2 separate regions of the Homo sapiens genome follow, and region 2 is linked to region 1. Evidence: fine-mapped expression QTL. A gene starts in region 1. The other region holds a variant in brackets. All regions are shown on one strand. Distances are from middle to middle.

The links.
Region 2: its variant is fine-mapped to the expression of TCERG1L-AS1 in thyroid (GTEx, PIP 0.98).

Annotation. Positions count from the first base shown.
Region 1 is chr10:131,092,150-131,100,476 of GRCh38, reverse strand. TCERG1L-AS1 (TCERG1L antisense RNA 1) reads right to left here and starts at 5,259. Exons shown (of 2, transcript NR_120623.1): 1 at 5,178-5,259; 2 at 4,700-5,089. TCERG1L (transcription elongation regulator 1 like) reads left to right here. Exons shown (of 12, transcript NM_174937.4): 11 at 2,053-2,171; 12 at 7,159-8,086. The coding sequence ends at 7,315. RefSeq lists an enhancer at 1,490-1,991.
Region 2 is chr10:131,198,605-131,206,931 of GRCh38, reverse strand. The region is part of intron 4 of TCERG1L (transcription elongation regulator 1 like); the gene reads left to right. It overlaps LOC105378563 (a long non-coding RNA gene), which reads left to right. Exons shown (of 5, transcript XR_946484.1): 3 at 1-503; 4 at 810-2,413; 5 at 2,678-4,379. Among named protein-coding and RNA genes, the nearest start is that of TCERG1L-AS1, 110 kb to the right of the region's middle. The variant C/T (reference allele first, on the strand shown) is at 3,788.

The DNA.
Region 1 (8,327 bases):
GCGATGTTAAATTATAGCAGCATAAAATAAAGTAACAGAGCAAAGGGAGAGGAAAGAGAGAAGCATTTGATGAGATGGAGAAATGGTTCTAGGCAGAGAGAGAGAAGCAGGCATTTCTGAAGAGCCCTGACCCCACGGCCAGCCAGGCTTTCTCTCTAGGTCTAAAATTAATAGAGCAAAACTCTAGCTAATGATGGAGCCACATGCTTTTATTTGGATAATAACCCTGCATTAATTTTTTATTAGTTAAATATAAGATAACTAAGAACTTACATTGCTATTTGCCTTGAAGGCATAAGAAGCCAATTATGGCTTGGCGTGGTGGCTCACACCTGTAATCCCAGCACTTTGGAAGGCTGAGGCGGGTGGATCACCTGAGGTCAGGAGTTCGCAACCAGGCTGGCCAACATGGTGAAACCCTGTCTCTACTAAAAGTACAAAAAAAATTAGCTGGGCGTGGCGGCACACACCTATAGTCCCAGCTACTTGGGAGGCTGAGGCAGGAGAATTGCTTGAACCCAGGAGGCAGAGGTTGCAGTAAGCCAAGGTGATGCCATTGCACTCCAGCCTGGGCAATAGAGCAAGACTCTGCCTCAAAAAAAAAGAAAGAAAAGAAAAAAGAAGCCAATCATATTCTTACTTACATATACATGCACATATTCTCAATTTAGGTCATATTTGTGGATGTTTCATTTCGCTGCTGTATCTTCAGGGGACCAGTGGCATTTTGTATTCATAATCCTGTAAAGGTTTGCCACTGCTGACATGGAATCTGAAACAATAAGACAAAGTGGGAAGAAAGCCACTCCGGAGAAGGGGCTGAGCAGTGCTGGGGTCGAGGCTTTCACCTGCCCACCCTTGCTTTCTCATCCCCACTCATTTGGCATGAGTGTAGAAGAAGCTGCCTGCTTGGTCCTCGGTCACATTCTAGGATCTGCCTGGCCGTTGGTTGGATTGGTGCCCAGTTGCTATTTATTGGCCTGATAGGATCCTATGTGGACTTTCTCTTGATATTTTTATTATGTTTGCGTAAACACTTATCTTCAGTTTATTTTTAACGTTCTTGAGTTTGGGGTAGCATTAGGAATGAAAGAACTTTGTCCCTCTTTGACTCCGTAGTCTATAAATGACCATTTTTCGCTGGTTAGAACAATGATCTATCTTACCCTGACAGAGAAGAGGTTCTGTGGCCTGTCACAAAGAGATTGCATCTCGTTATGCGGGCTGCCAGGTTCCAGGAGAAGTGCCCTGGGGCCTTGCCCAGAATTGCCTGCCAGCTGATGTGCATGTCCCTCCCATTGAGGAGCAGGGTTTTCCTGTTTGGGGCAGCATTTGAGATGCATTTCTGGTCAGATGGGAGTGCCCAGTGCCCGAGGGTCAGGCCTCCTGGCCAGTTGTTTCCACACTGATGACCCAGGCAGCCTGGCATCCTGTGACCCCCTCAGAAGAGACCACTTATGCACCCTGAGTCCTCCCCAAGGCACCAGACGCCCAGGTTCACAAGTGGGGATCAGAGATGCAGAATTTACTTTCTTTCCACAAGTTAAGGTCATTTTTGGGAGACTCGAATGTCAATTACGTCACCCTAGGAAGTGACTAGCACGAACTAAGTGCTCTGCTGTGTTCTGGTGCCACTGGCCGTGATGAGGCAGTGGGAGGCCGCGCGTTACAGATGCTGCTCAGAGGGCACAGTGAGGACCACTGCAGCCTACAGCACGGGTTCCAAACCGCCACTTGGTTCCAGACGCCTGCAGAGAGGGCAGCCAAGTCATTCTCCGGGTTTCTCCAGCAGGGCTGCTTCACGTTTGACCCAGAAATGGCGCCTGCATGTAGAGAAATGCCGGGCCGTGTGGGCACCCAGGTTTAATTATTCAGACTGCTTGGATCCTTGAGAGCTATGCTGAAAGGCTGTTGCTCATAACTCCAGCAGCTGTAAACAAGAACAGCTTTTGCCATAGATTCTTGCTGCTTTCTCATGTTGTGCTTGGAATACAAGATTTCATTTCTGATATGCAATTTCATGATGTTTTTCTTCTGTATCTGTGTTTTAAGATATTTGAACAGTTTGTCAAGACAAGAATAAAAGAAGAATACAAGGAAAAGAAAAGTAAATTGCTGCTAGCCAAAGAAGAATTCAAGAAACTTCTAGAGGAATCTAAAGTGTCTCCCAGGTATGGAGAGAGAAATATACCGGATGATTTCTGGGGCTGGGAACTTACCAATGACAAGAGGACTCTTCAGGTTTGTTTTTGTTAAATCGTGTAACCCAGCCTTCCACAGACACGAAAGTGTGAGCTTTGAAGACCTGCCAGTGAGACCAGCCTGGCTCCCCTCTATCATGCTGCCTGTCATGAGCCTCCAAATGTCCCTCTCATCAGTCCTGGGAAAGTGGGCTATTTGCTAACCAAATGCATCACAACCATTTTATTCCTACCCTGCATGCATTTCAAACGTCAGCAGCCCTGACTGACCCAAATAACCAATCAATACGTGAGCACTCATGAGATGAGGTCTAGTTTCTGATCTAATGATCAAGAAGCAAAAATGCAAAGCTGACTACAAACAACAGCACCATAACCCCTACCACACCCCTTGGTTCCAGATGTCTTAACAGTTGGTCCCAGAGTAAAATGAAGATTTGATACACCGGACAAGTGAACTGAGTTAACTAGGTTGCCAAAACTTACTAAAATAATAAATGAGGCATTATTTCCATGAAATAAGACACACTTACAAGAAAATAGATGTTAGAAATTGGAAGAATACATAAGCTTAACTCTTTCTTAAAAATTAGCTTTAATTGACTGATCTTTAAAAAGTAATGAACATGGGCCGGGCGCGGTGGCTCACGCCTATAATCCCAGCACTTTGGGAGACCAAGGCAGGTGGATCACGAGGTCAGGAGATCGAGACCATCCTGGCTAACACGGTGAAACCCTGTCTCTACTAAAAATACAAAAAATTAGCCGGGCGTGGTGGTGGGTGCCTGTAGTCCCAGCTGCTTGGGAGACTGAGGCAGGAGAATGGCGTAAACCTGGGAGGCGGAGCTTGCAGTGAGCCTTGATTGCACCACTGCACTCCAACCTGGGCGACAGAGTGAGTCTCCGTCTCAAAGAATAAAGAAATAAATAAAAAGTAATGAACATGTACTACTTTTAGAACTATAAAACTGTAAGTTTCGTAAGCATAAAAATGGTTAACAATGTATTTTTATTTTAGACTGGAAGATGCAGCATCAGTTTTTTGTTTGTTTCTTTTTTTTTTTTTTTTTTTTTTGAGACAGACCCTCGCTGTGTCACCCAGGCTGTGGTGCAATGGCACGATCTTGGTTCACTGTAACCTTTGCCTCCGGGGTTCAAGCAATTCTCCCTGCTTCAACCTCTCAAGTAGCTGGGATAACAGGCACCCACTACCATGCACAGCTAATTTTTGTATTTTTAGTAGAGATGGGGTTTCACCATGTTGACCGGGCTGGTCTTGAACTCCTGACCTCAGGTGATCCACCCACCTCGACCTCCCAAAGTACTTGGATTACAGGCGTGAGACACCATGCCCAGCCAGAATCAGTTTTTTCTTTCTTTTTTTTTTTTTTTGAGATGGAGTCGCTCTGTTGCCCAGGCTGGAGTGCAATGATGCAATCTCGGCTCACTGCAAGCTCCGCCTCCTGGGTACATGCCAAGTAGCTGGGACTACAGGTGCCCACCACCACACCCGGCTAATTTTTGTATTTTTAGTAGAGAAGTAGAGACGGGGTTTCACCATGTTAGCCAGGATGGTCTGGATCTCCTGATCTTGTGATCCACCCGCCTTGGCCTCCCAAAGTGCTGGGATTACAGGCATGAGCCACCGCGCCTGGCCTGCATCGGTTTTTAAATGGACATTAATTGATGCTTTCTATGAAGGCATAGGCCCCCTTTGTTTGACCTGTGATTTGGTTGATCAAGAATTAGGTGACCTAAGTTAGTGCTAGTTACACAATCCTCATAAAACTTCTCTAGCTATTCTAAGGACAGGTACTTTCTGAATAGGGAAAAAATAGCATGAATTATCTTCATCACAAGTGCTAATGTAGACAAGGAAATGTGTGTCCTGTTGCCTGCAACTTGTGATTTTCCATTGTTAAAGCAGTCATGAGAATGCTGGGTTCTAGCCATGGCTTAGCTGTGTCCACCCACCAGGTGGCCTTGGGACAGAGGCGGAGGAGGCAAGGGCTCTGGAAAGGTGCTGGAGCCCCTTCTCTGCCTTGGTTCACAGCCTGGCCCTGGCCCATCTTCTCCTGGCCATGGGGTAAGTATTGGACCTTCCTGTGCTCCCGAGCCCTCCTCCAAATGGGAGGATGACCACACACACCTCAGAAAGTGACGAGGAGGATGGCGTGAGGAGTTGCAGGGAGGGACCCCGACGGTGCCTGGCAGGCAGGAGGAGCTCCGAAAGTGGTAGCTGTCATTACTGCTATTGAGACCATCATTACTGTTAAAGACATCTGGCCAGCATTCTCTATTGATAAACTAGCAGCAATAAGCCACATACTCCCCTTCCCATGAATACATCATGAAGACAACGGAAAAAATATTCGGAATGCATTGAGCCATTTAAAAAAGATGACATACACACATACACGCACACAGAAGGAAAACGAGTGGTAGAAATTAGAAGGGAGTTAAACGGACTCTTTTTAAAATGAGAGTTAATTGCCTGCTATTTTTTAAAATAAATTTTATTGTATATATTTAAACTATACAACATAATGTTATAGGGCACATAGAGATAAGATGCTTACTATAATGTAGCAAATTATTTTAAAATTTACACTGGGATATATTGCTTTGATAATTATAAAGCTATTTTTTTCATTTTAAAAGTAGCTAAGTTTTCAACATTTCAAAAACTTTTTCCAGATCTTCTGTATACTTTTCTGTAGGCATCCTAGTGAAACATGTACAATTCAAATGACCACATGCTGGAGAGCCAGGCGCGTCCCCATGCAGGCGACGTGGGCCTCTTAGAAGCAGCCTCCTGAGGCTGTGTAGCCTCCTGCAGCCATACAGTCCCGTCCTGGTCGCCCGTCTCAGCCTCGGTCCTGAGCAGCCTGTGGGAATGGTGGCGACGGGACAGTCCAGAACACTCCTGGACAGCCCCTAGCCCCAGCCCTGCCCGCCTCTCGGGAGAGCAGCTACCGGGGACTGGGTCCTAGCCAGGTGGGGTTGGCCGCCCGGTGGGGTTGACGCCCGGTGGGGTTGGCCGTCCGGTGGGGTTGGCCGCCCGGTGGGGTTGACACCCGGTGGGGTTGGCCGCCCGGTGGGGTTAGCCGCCCAGTGTTCCTTCCTGAGAGCTGCAGCAGCCGCCTCCTTCATGGCAGGCTGGCCCGAGTCCCACTTAGCAGAGGGAGAGCAGAGATCCAGGGCCTGTGAATCAGCTGACCTTCGTGAGTTCACACCACAGCTCATCAGCATCAGCAGAAAGCCGGTTGCTGCCCCTTGGCATGGCTAAGGGGCCACGGAAGCGGGAGGCTCCCTTTCTTTTCAGGGACTCTTCTTTTCAGAGAGGCCCAGAATAGGGCCTGTCTAGCAGCTGCCCCTGTCCAGCCCCTAACTGAGAATGTGTAGATGCCTGTCTAGCCAGGGGAGCGTGGAACAAGCCCAGGCAAGTCTGACCGTTTGACTCATCCCCCGCAGGTCGGGGTGGAGTGTGGCTTAGCCAAGGTACACCAAGGTGGTTACATCAGTAAAGGAAGGAAGGGGGAAGGAGGGAGAGAAGGAAGAAAGGAACCGGGAGAAAAGGAGGGAGGGAGAGAAGGAAGGAGGAAGGGAAGGCAGGGGAGAGGGCAGGAAGGAGGGAGGGAGGAAGAGGGAAGCCAGAGAGAAGCGCTTTTCTTGCGAGAGATGTGTAAACAAGCACCCCCACAGACGGAGAGCAGGAAAACGGCAGCGCCTTGGGGAAGGAATGAGACGAATTGTTCAATGACAGAAATGAGCATGAGTCTGCTAATTATTTGTCTTGTCTTCTAACAGCCATGTCGGCATAATCTTGTTGTTTGTATATTTCAGAAGCTATTAAGTTATAATAATTTAACACAATAATTCCGTGTCTGCAAGGAAGTGTAAAATTCTCTGTAAGGAGAAGTGGGAGGGAATAAGAAGAATCCCCCGGACAAAGAATGTCCACATTTTCCGTGCACCCCAGAGCACACTGCCCAGGCCAGGCCCTGCCCGACTGTCGCTGGACAAGCGAGTGCATCTGCATAGGCCAGCGGCTCCAGGCCTTGGTCCCTCTACCTCTGTCCCTGTCCCTGGCTTCAAGTTCAAGGCTAAGAGAACAGGAAGTTGCGGGGCCCGGTGCCTGCGAAGGTCAGTTGGTCACAGCAGAGGCGCATCCTGTTTTGCCCTCTAAGCTGCCGTAGCCTTGAGAACAGCCTTGCTGCTCTAGGCTGGGTCGCTCGCATTTTCTTACGGGGCACCACCTGGCCTGGCAGCTCTGATTCGCTCCATCAGTGTTTGGGGCTCACTACTTGCCAGGCACTGGGCTGGACATTCAGGGCATTTATTGGAGAACGAAGCAGATAATGTCTCCCTCATTCGAATGTGGGAGTCCAGTTCCGCAAGTGAGGTTTAACAAGATCACCACTGTGAAGAGGGCTGTGATGGAGTCACAGTTCTCTGAGCCTCTAGATAGGGCGAGTTTCCCAAAGAAGACCCCCTGGCCTGGTTTCTCATGACGAGCAGCTCTAACTGGGGGAAGAAACAAGGGAAGGGTGTACCAGGCAGAGGGAACAGTGTAAGAAAGACCGTGGCAGGCAGAGCCTGGTGGCAGCAAGGGAGGGGCGGAGGAGACCTGGCCAGCAAAGCTGTGATCGGGGCGGCTGGGGGAGTGACAGCTGCATGAGACGGCTGAGGAGGCTGGTGGGGGCCGCTCATTTCCGGAGACCACTCAGAGGAGAGACAAGGGGGTCCTGCAAGTGAGGGTGGGTCAGGGCCCTGCAGGACCCGGGTGAGGAGCAGGCACGGCTGGTCAGAGCCGCTCACCCACCGGGTGCCCTGCCACCCACGGCCAGGCCTGGTGGAAGGGCTGGATGCTTGCTCAGGCGGTGCCGCTGCAGGATCTCTGGGGAGGCCAGAGTTGCTCTCTGGAAGGTGTCTCAGGAAACTCTTTCTTTTTCAGGACCACGTTTAAGGAGTTTGCAGAGAAATACGGCCGGGATCAGAGGTTCCGACTTGTTCAAAAAAGAAAGGACCAGGAGCATTTTTTCAACCAATTCATACTTATTCTTAAGAAACGGGACAAGGAAAACAGACTAAGGCTGCGGAAAATGAGATGAGTTTGTGAAAAAATGCAATAAGCCCGGGGGTTGACCCTGGGCGTGCCGGGGGCGAGGGGGTCACGGTGGAGACGGACACGGGCGTGGGGCGGCCGAGACCTGCACGGCCCAGCGGGCACCGGCACTGCGGGGTCTTCGTTCTCAGAGGATTACTGTTTCATATTGAAGCTCTCTCTTTTGTACATTCAGAGTTTGATGCATTTCTAATCACCGTGATACGTCGATCCCTTAATTGTTTTAATTATGCAAATTACTTGTAATATACACAAATTATCAATCCACTGCAGGACTGTGGGGAAGCAGGAACGGGAGCCTCTGTAACAATCTCAAGGCATTTGTGTCATCACCTAAGACGATTGGCGAAAACTTTTCTGAAAACCTTTGTGAATTACTTCGTTTCTCCAGGATTCCCGCAGTGTTGAGGAATTCCTTACTCTGTCCCTAGGTCTCAGTCTCGTTTCTGAGTAGCAGCAATAGGGTTTTCATCATTCATCATAGTGACAACTGTGAGCATTCCACACCTGGACCGTGGATCACTTACAGGTTTCCAAGGGTGGCCGCGCGTTCCTCCCAGAGGGGCGTCCCGGCCTGGAGCAGGGAGCCGTGTTGGTTGCCACCGGTCCTACTTCAAAAGAATTATTTTGTACAAAATCATCATATTAATATTTGAGTTATTTTTATTGTATGCCCGGAGTTTGCATGAGATTTTTTCTCATCACCTTTGTATAAAAAATTTTTAATTTTTTTTAATCAATAAATATTTTAAACCAGTGTGTGTATGTGTGACTAAGACATTCCCCATGATCTTAAGCAGCAACATTGTGTTTCAACTAAAGATACCCAGTTTTGAAAGATTCAGGGAGAAAAAAAATCCCGATGATTGCAATAAGGGCCATGAAAATGCCACTCACACAGAATCTCACTTTTCAACATACTTAGTAGTCCTGGGTGGAACCACGTTTGGCAAAACCTTCACTAATTAATTGCATTCCTTAAACTATTAAACATCCAT
Region 2 (8,327 bases), 110 kb before region 1:
CCTGGCCCCTCTGGGAGTGAAGTGACTGTACCAAATCCTTCCACGTCCTCCCGCACCACTCGCTTGGCCAGAGGAGCATCTGGCTTTTCCCTGGACGCACCCCACCCTCTCCTCATGATCTTGTCCTCTTCAAGGAGGACCAGGCCTCCCTGTCCTACACCCCACATCCCTGGGAAATCACTGTCGGGGCTGCCCCAGCCACTATTTCACCCTGGCTGAGCTCAGCTGCTACTTCTGGGCTCCAGGAGGACCCTGCACCCCTCACGATGCTCTTGTTCTCATCACAGTCGTCCCTTTGGGAACACGTGACCTCTGCCCCTCCTTCACATGCTGCCCACTGAGCTCAGCCACGGGGTCCTTGATTGCACGGACTTTGCACCCAGGGCCTGTGCAAGGCCTGGCGGGCAGCCGCCCACGAGGGGCGCTTGTTCCATGGATAAAACGCCCTCTATTCTGCCTCTCCTCGTGCCCCTTCCTTTGAGGGCTGCTCCAGGAAGGCTCAGGTGAGGCAGGTGGATTCTTCCCTTCCTTGGCTGTCTGGGGCCCCAGGGCCTGGGAGGCCTGGGCAGAGCTCCCACACCGGTCTTCACTCCAGGACCCCCTTGGAGGGTGTGTCCCGGGCTGACCTCCCTGCCCAGTGCCCTGAGTCCACTCCCAGGCTGCCAGCCGGTCCGCAGGACCAGCCCTTCTGGTGACCCAAGATGGTGTTTCCATGAGGATTTGCCTTTGCGGACCTTGGCGTACACCCGATTGGCAGTTCATTCGTTGTCCATGACATCCTTCAAATCCGCCTGTACTTCTTATTCCAGAGCCACCAGCCAGTTCTCCCGCCTGGGAATCCTGAGGGCTTCGTGTCTGCAGCATCCATTTTCCTGCCCTTTCAGAGTCTTCCAGACAAAGGAGCTACAGAGCTATAGTAAGACCTCTGTGGTCATATGGCAAACCATCTGCCCGTGGACCCCTGCTCATATGGCAAGCTGTCTGCCCACAGACCCCACAGAGACCTGGCACAGGAGCCAGGTGGAGGGCAGTCACCACCTCGGCCCTCTGTCGTAGCTTCCCAACTCTGGGTCCATCCCAGGGGCTCCCACAGCCTCCCGTCTCCTGCACCCTTTGCATAAAACATCTTTTGGATAAAACAACCTTTGCAGCCTCTTAGGAAGGATGAGGTCCGCCGTGCTGAGCCTCCAAGACCAGGTGACCTCAGCAAGGTGGCTGCGGACATGCTGCCTTTCCAGGAAGTGGCAGTCAGAGATGCCAGGGTGGCCCCATGACCCCAGGCCAGGATGTGCCCTGCCAAGGGAAGGCCATGGAAGGCGGCGTTTACCTCCACGTCCCCAGGGCTGCACTGGAGCTACTTAAGAGAAGCATTTTTAAATAAAAGTTCAGCCTGTTACAAAATTCCCTAATGTGAGATACAGGCTGGAATGAGGCAATTCCACAGAGAAATCATTGTGGGAATAATTCACATCTAATGTAGTTTCATGAAGGATGCTATTTCCAGAGTCTAACTTTTTCTCCCTTTTTCTCTCACTTTTTGATTTTATTGCTGTTTTTTTTTTTTTTTACATTAGGAGAAATTGAAAACCTGTTTAGGTTTCATAGCTTCACATTTCTGAAGCAAGTGACACAGCAGAGAGTTGGGATGCATCTGATTTGTGCCTCACAATGAGGCGTGCACGTCACTGGTTAATTATGTGGCGTTCCATAAAGGAGAGCTGTTGGGATAAAAGGATGAATTGCGAGCATTAACCTTCTTTTTCCCTTTTTAAGGGGACCACTTGTCAGTCACAACGGCAGTAAAGCCAGGTGTAATGAAATTGGATTTTGGGAGAGGCTGCCATTGAGTTGATGCCATGGGCCGCTTGGTCTGGGAGAGGCTGGATTCTCAGTGCAGCCCCAGAAAGAGCCGGGTGGCAGGGGTTGAGGGCATGACAGGTCCAGGGACAGGGGCCTTAGACCAGATCCAGCTGCAGAGCACGTGAGCCCTGACCCCATGGTCAAGACCCTGGACTTCAAGCAGAAAGGCCACTGGGCTTGTGGTCAGAGATGGTGTGAACCTCCATCAAGGATCCCTTCCTCTGCCTGTTCATAAAACCGAGAGGTGGGCTCTTCTCTCCAGCCAACCTGTTCTGCCTGGGGCCAGGCTGTGAAGGGGCTGAGGGACAAGTCCACTGCCATCGGGGCCTCTCCCTGAAGGGAGTCTTCTGCCCCAAGAAACATTCTTCCCTTACCCGCAGGCTCATTGGTTTATTTTAGCCTCTAGTGGAAGGACACTGGACAGATGTCCTTTGATTTGAGGACACACACCTTTGGATCTGAGCTGGCTCCGTGCCCCACTGGAGCCCACACAGTGACTGTGGCCACCGCTGCTGGGAAGCCAGGACCCACCATCACGGACAGTTTCTCCACTGTACATGGGAAATGGCTTTGACAGGTGCTTTCTGGCATTTGGGGTGGATGGACTCATCCTCATCCCCATTTTCAAGCTGTGCATATGGAGGCCATGTAGATGCGGGGGCAGGGTGGGGGGGCAGGTGCCAGTTTCCTGAGCCTGCTTGTGGTGGGGCCATCGGGCCAGCCCACTTGCTGGTTTGTGACCTGTCTCAGTCTGTTCCCGCTCCTCTATACTCTTAGACTAGACAATTTATAGAGATGAGAAATGCTTTTCTTACAGGTCTGGAGAATGGAAAGTCCAGGACCAAGGCATCAGCAGATCTGGTGCCTGATGAGAGCTGCCAAGACCCTAGCTAGGCCCAGGCCCAGTGCTAAGCCACCAGGCTTCCAAGATGGCGCCTCCTTGCTGTGTCCTCCCATGGCAGGAGGGAGCAAGGGCTAAGAGGGCCTAGCTGGTTCCCTTCGGGCCTTCCATGAGGTCGCTCATTCCATCCATGAGGGCTCTGCTCTCATCACTTCACATCTCCTAAAGGTTTCACCTCTTCATATCGTCCTATTGGGGCTTAGCTTCCTACTTTGGGGTTTTGTGGGGACTCACGTATTCATGCCCTAGTGTGACCTAATGTGACATCACGCCTCTCCCCTCCCAGCTGGGTTGCGGTGGAGACAGCCAGCTGTCCCCTTAAGATGCCCACCCCCCACTTGGAGGAGGTCTGAAGTGGAAAGTGGCTAGGGAGGCTGCCATCACATTTCCCAGGCTGCCCCCAGGGCTAGCGCTCGCCGGCGGGATGTGAGCAGAAGCAGCAGTTAGGAGAGTGCCTTCCCCACCTCCCGGCCCCTACTGGCCTCTGGATTCCAACCTCTCTGAAACTCGGTATGGCAGGGCCACAAACCAGAAGCAGATGTGTCCCTGAATCGTTTGCGGTGACCCACATTCATCCTCATGGGAGAGACGCACCATCTTCGAATGTGAACGGTTGACATGACGGGGGCGTTTTCCCATGAGGCTGAGAAGTCCTGTGCATGCATTCCCTTAAAATAGAGACGTGAGCACCTGTGATTGGGGCCAGCTTGGATGTTCTACCAGAGGCAGTTTGCTGTCTGGTCAAAGAGGTCTTAGGGTGCTTTTTTGTCATCAGCCTCATTAAACAGTGAGCTGATCTTAAGTGACGAGACCATGAAGGTCACCACTGTGACATACTGGAAGTCTTTTTTTTTTTGAGACGGAGTCTCACTCTGTCACCCATGCGAGAGTGCAGTGGGACGTACTGGAAGTCTTAAGTGAGGTCATCTACCACCCAGCTGTGCTCTGTAACCCAGAGAGCGCAGCTCGGAGGGCTGAAGACAGGTATACGCATATCCATGAACACTGTCACTACTCCTGAGAAGG[C/T]GTCACTGCTGTCATTGAAAAGCTTTGAGGGCTGTTGTCTATGGTTCTTGAATTTGTAAGTGGAATTCCTGGCAGCTGTGTGATAAATCAAGCACATCGGTGTCGGCGTGACCTTTGACTTCTGTCCCCACAATCTGTGAACCAGAATAAACCTCTTCACTCAAACTTCCACTTAGGATGGCACCTGGTTAATATGAATCATGAAGCAATCAAAACTGAGGTGTACGTTTCCACAGACGGCAGACTTAATTATTTAAGTGTTTCTTTTTTCTAAATAAACTGTAAAAAATGAACATATTTTATTTTAAAAATGGAAACAATTTAGAAGCTTATAGAATCAAGCTCCTCCCAACCCTATTCTTCTCATATTGGAAACTTCTATTGATAATCAGATAATCAGAATATTTCCAGTGTATTCCATGCAAGCCTATGGATTCCTGAAAATGTGGAGAGGATGTTATTGACTTGAATTCCGCTACGTTACTGTTTTACTTAGCAGTGTACCTTAAAGACCAAAATGTAGTGAACTTGAAAAAATCTGTTTTTTATTTTTATTTTTTTTTGGAGATGGAGTCTTGCTCTGTCACCCAGGCTGGAGTGCAGTGGCATGATCTTGTCTTACTGCAACCTCCGCCTCCCAGGTTCAAGGGATTCTCCTGCCTCAGTCTCCCTGTATCTGGGATTACAGGCACTCGCCACCACGCCTGGCTCATTTTTGTATTTTTAGTGGTAATGGGGTTTCACCATGTTGCGCAGACTGGTCTCGGACTCCTGACCTCAGGTGATCCGCCCTCCTCGGCCTCCCAAAGTGTTGGGATTACAGGCATGAACCACCGCGCCCGGCGAAAAAGTTCCGGCCTTACCAGCTTTTGTGGTACCCCACGGTGCAGACATGCGCATACCTACTTGCTTTGGGGGCATCAGTCTGTTTCTAACGTGGGCTGTTACAATCAGTTGAGCGTGTACGTTCTCTGTGCTCCTTCATGTGGTCGGGAGGCTCACGTGCAGCTGGTGATCATGCAGTTTGGTACAACGCTTCTGGAAAGAAATGGATTAATATAAATCGAGACTCTTAATTAGTTTGTCTGTTTAACCCAGCAGTTCTGTCCATGGGACCTTTCCTAAGGAGCAGTCATCGGAAACGCATTACAGGATCTGGAGAGAACCAGCCCCCGTGACCCCCACGTGGCCCTGGGACTTGTTAGAGCTTTCTAGCATCTTTCATTGGCTCTTTCCTCGTCTCTGAGGAAGGTCGATGGATGCGCCTTCAGCACAGCGTGGTGGTGGACGTGGGGTAAAAGAGCAGCCATGTTTAGCAAAGCCGGCAGCTCTGAAAAACTCACTCACAGCTGAGCATTTAGAAGGTCATTACAGTCCCGCAGAGAAGGACGCATGAGGACATCCCACAGAATGCAGTGTAAAATTCGGAGATTAAATATAAAAAAGAAGTCCAAATGCCCAACAGCAGCAGCAGAGCAAATTGCAGTCCATGTTTTGTAGAAATATTTGGCAGCCATTGATTTATTTTATTTTTATATATTTTTTTATTTGCAGCCATTTAAATCATGCTTATTAAGAGCTTCTAAGATTGTGGCGTTTGTTAAAATAGTAAGTAAAGCAACAATTCTACATTGGCAGTGACGGGTCCATAATGAATGAATGAAACTGAAGTACTGGGACCCTCCTTTTTGGCGCCTTACGAGACCCCGGGGAACTCTTGGCGCTGTGCTCCCACGATCACGTGTCTGTGTAAAATCTGCGGATGTTCGATGGCCTCAGGAAGGCTGCTGTCTGTTCCCAGCGTGACCCTCTCTGTCGCTGTCCCTGCCTTGTGGGTGGTGGTGGAGTGTTTGTAGGTGTGGCAGGACCCAGCTGGGGGAAGGGAGGTGCTTCATTTAGTTTGAGTTTAGTGGGATGTGTTTTGGGGGCTCACTTTCCAGGGAGGCAAAGCCAGCTATGCGGGTGGTGGGCCTGACTCTCAGGAATTCTTTCACCTCTTGTGATGGTTCCAATGTGTCCCCTCCACGTTTCATGTGTTGAAACTTAGTTGCCAGTGTGATGGTGTCAAGAGGCACGGCCTTTAACAGGTCATGAGACCACAAAAGCTGCCCTCCACGTCCAAGATGGCGCCGTGATTCTGTATCCGCCCGAGGGGAGGGAGGCTGTGTCCTCACAGCACTGGCAGGAGGGGGAAAGGCAAGTGGGAGATAACCGTGCGAGAAGCCTCTTTTATAAGGGCCTCCATCCCCTTTGCCAGGGAGGATCCCTTGTGATCTAAGCGACTCCTAAAGGCCCCACCTCTTAATGTGTTCACATGACCATTAAGTTTTAACTTCTAAATTTTAGAGGGGACATATTCAATTATATTATTCTACTCTGACCCTCAAAACTTGAGTCCTTCCCACACGCAAAATACATTCATTCCATTTCAGTAATTCCAAACGTTTTAACTTGTTCTAGCATCAACTCAAAAGCGCAGAGTCTTTTAAACATCATATGAGTGAGACCCAAAGTGTGATTTATTCCGAGGAAAATTTCCCTCCAGCTGTGAGCCTGCGAAATCAAGCAAGTCATCCGATTCCAAAATACAATGGTGGAACACACATAGGATAAACATCCTGATTCCAAAAAGGAGACATAGGCAAGAAGGAAAGAGTAGCTGATCCAAAGTAATTTCAATACCCAACAATGCAAATGGCATTACATCTCGAGGTTTGAGAATCACCTTCTTTGACTCCATGTTCCAGACACAGGAGCAGGGGTTGGGCCCTCCACACTCCTTGGGGTGGAGTGGCCAGGAACTTGCATCAGACAACAGAGCTGCCAGTGCCTTGGCCTTGGACTTCTGTCCTCTGTTCTTCATAAAATACCCAGCCTCAGCTCGTTTGTCTAGCAGCACAAACGAGACTAAGGCAGAAACTGGTGCTGAGAAGTGGGCTATTGCCATAAAATATACCCAACATGTGAATGCAGCTTTAGAACCAGGAATGGGGCAGAGGCTGGAATCGTTTCAGAGTGAATGCTGGGAAAAGCCTGCATTGCCATGAACAGAGCATTAAGGACGATCCTGGTGAGAGCTCAGAGGAGGGGAGAGCTGTCGGGAAAAGTAGTGATATAGATGGGAAGGGCCATTCAGAGGAGGCTTCAGATGGAAAGGAGGAATGTTGACCTAAAGGGAGAAGCTGAGACACAGCAGGTAATTTTACAGCCTTTGCTAGAGCCAGAGTGAGGGCAGCCGCCGGGACACACTTCTAGGTTGCATAGGGGAGTGCTCCGAGTAGGTGTTTAAAGGCGAAAGAGAACGAGGGGTGGCTGCTACAAAGCTGTCGGGTGGGATTTCCCACTGTTTACAGGAGGGGCACTGTTTAGTGATTGGCTGTGCACTGCTGAACACAGGGTGTGATGATGGTGCCTGGTATGTGGCCCTTTATGACTGCTTGTTGTCAGTTGAGACCCCACAGAGCAGGTGGCTTCAAGAAGTAATTATTTAGCTCAAGGGGGTGTGACGTGACTGCTGTCATAGTTTTAATGCCCATTTAACAGGCCTGTTACTTTAAAGGGGCTTGCATTCCTCAGATAAAAAGTTTATTTTCTTTCTCAGCAACAAGGTATTGGAAACTGAGGGAAGGGTACCCTTGTTATAATGTGGCCAAGAACTGGGTGAGCTGTGTCTGTGTCCTGGGACTTGGTGAAGGCAGAGCTTTGCGAGCAGTGAACTAGGACATTTGTCAGGAATCTCTAAGCAGCAAGGGGTTCAGGATGCTTCTTTTGACCTTATAGTAAAATGTGAAAAGAGGGAAACAAGTTAAAAATGGAATTTACAATCAAAAGAGAAGCAGAGCTTAAAGTTGGAACATCCTCTGTCTGGCCAGGTACAGAATGAGAAGGGGGTTGGGGAGAGAGCACCAAGGGTAGCCAAGGCACCCTTTGATCAAAGGGTGAGTACAGATAGGCCACGGCCAGATGCTGTTCACCAGACAACGGGAGCAGGAGCCTGCAGGCATTTCAGAGAGCCTGGGGCTGCCAAGTCCTTCACAGGCCCAGAGAGCCAGGCCCTTGAGGGTGGAAGGGCTCAGGGAGGGGCCCAGGGTGCCCATGAGATCTTGGGGCTCACTGCGCAGGGCTGCCTCAAGTTTCCATTCCCCTCATTCTGACCCAGCACTCATCAGCCGCCCCAGCTGTGGCTCAAGTGGGCCAGGTGAGAGGCTGGACCTGCTGCCCCAGAAGGTACCAGCTGTGACCTTGGTGTTGTCCACGTGGCGCTGCCTCTGCAGGTGCACGGGGTGCATGAGCTGAGCAGGCACAAGCTTCTTCCACCCCAGATGCAAAAGAAGCCTCAGAGAGGCTCGGGGCCCCATCTGCCAGGGGTGGTGTCTTCACAGACAGCCCTTGCTAGAGTAATGCCTAGTGGATACATGAGAGCAGGGCTCCCCACAAAGACCCGTAGAGTCACCAGCATGCAGCATCAGCCTGGGAGGGCCACAGGCCTAAGACTGCCACCTGGGAGAGCAGCTGTGGGGCCGCTCCAGCACCGCTGCAT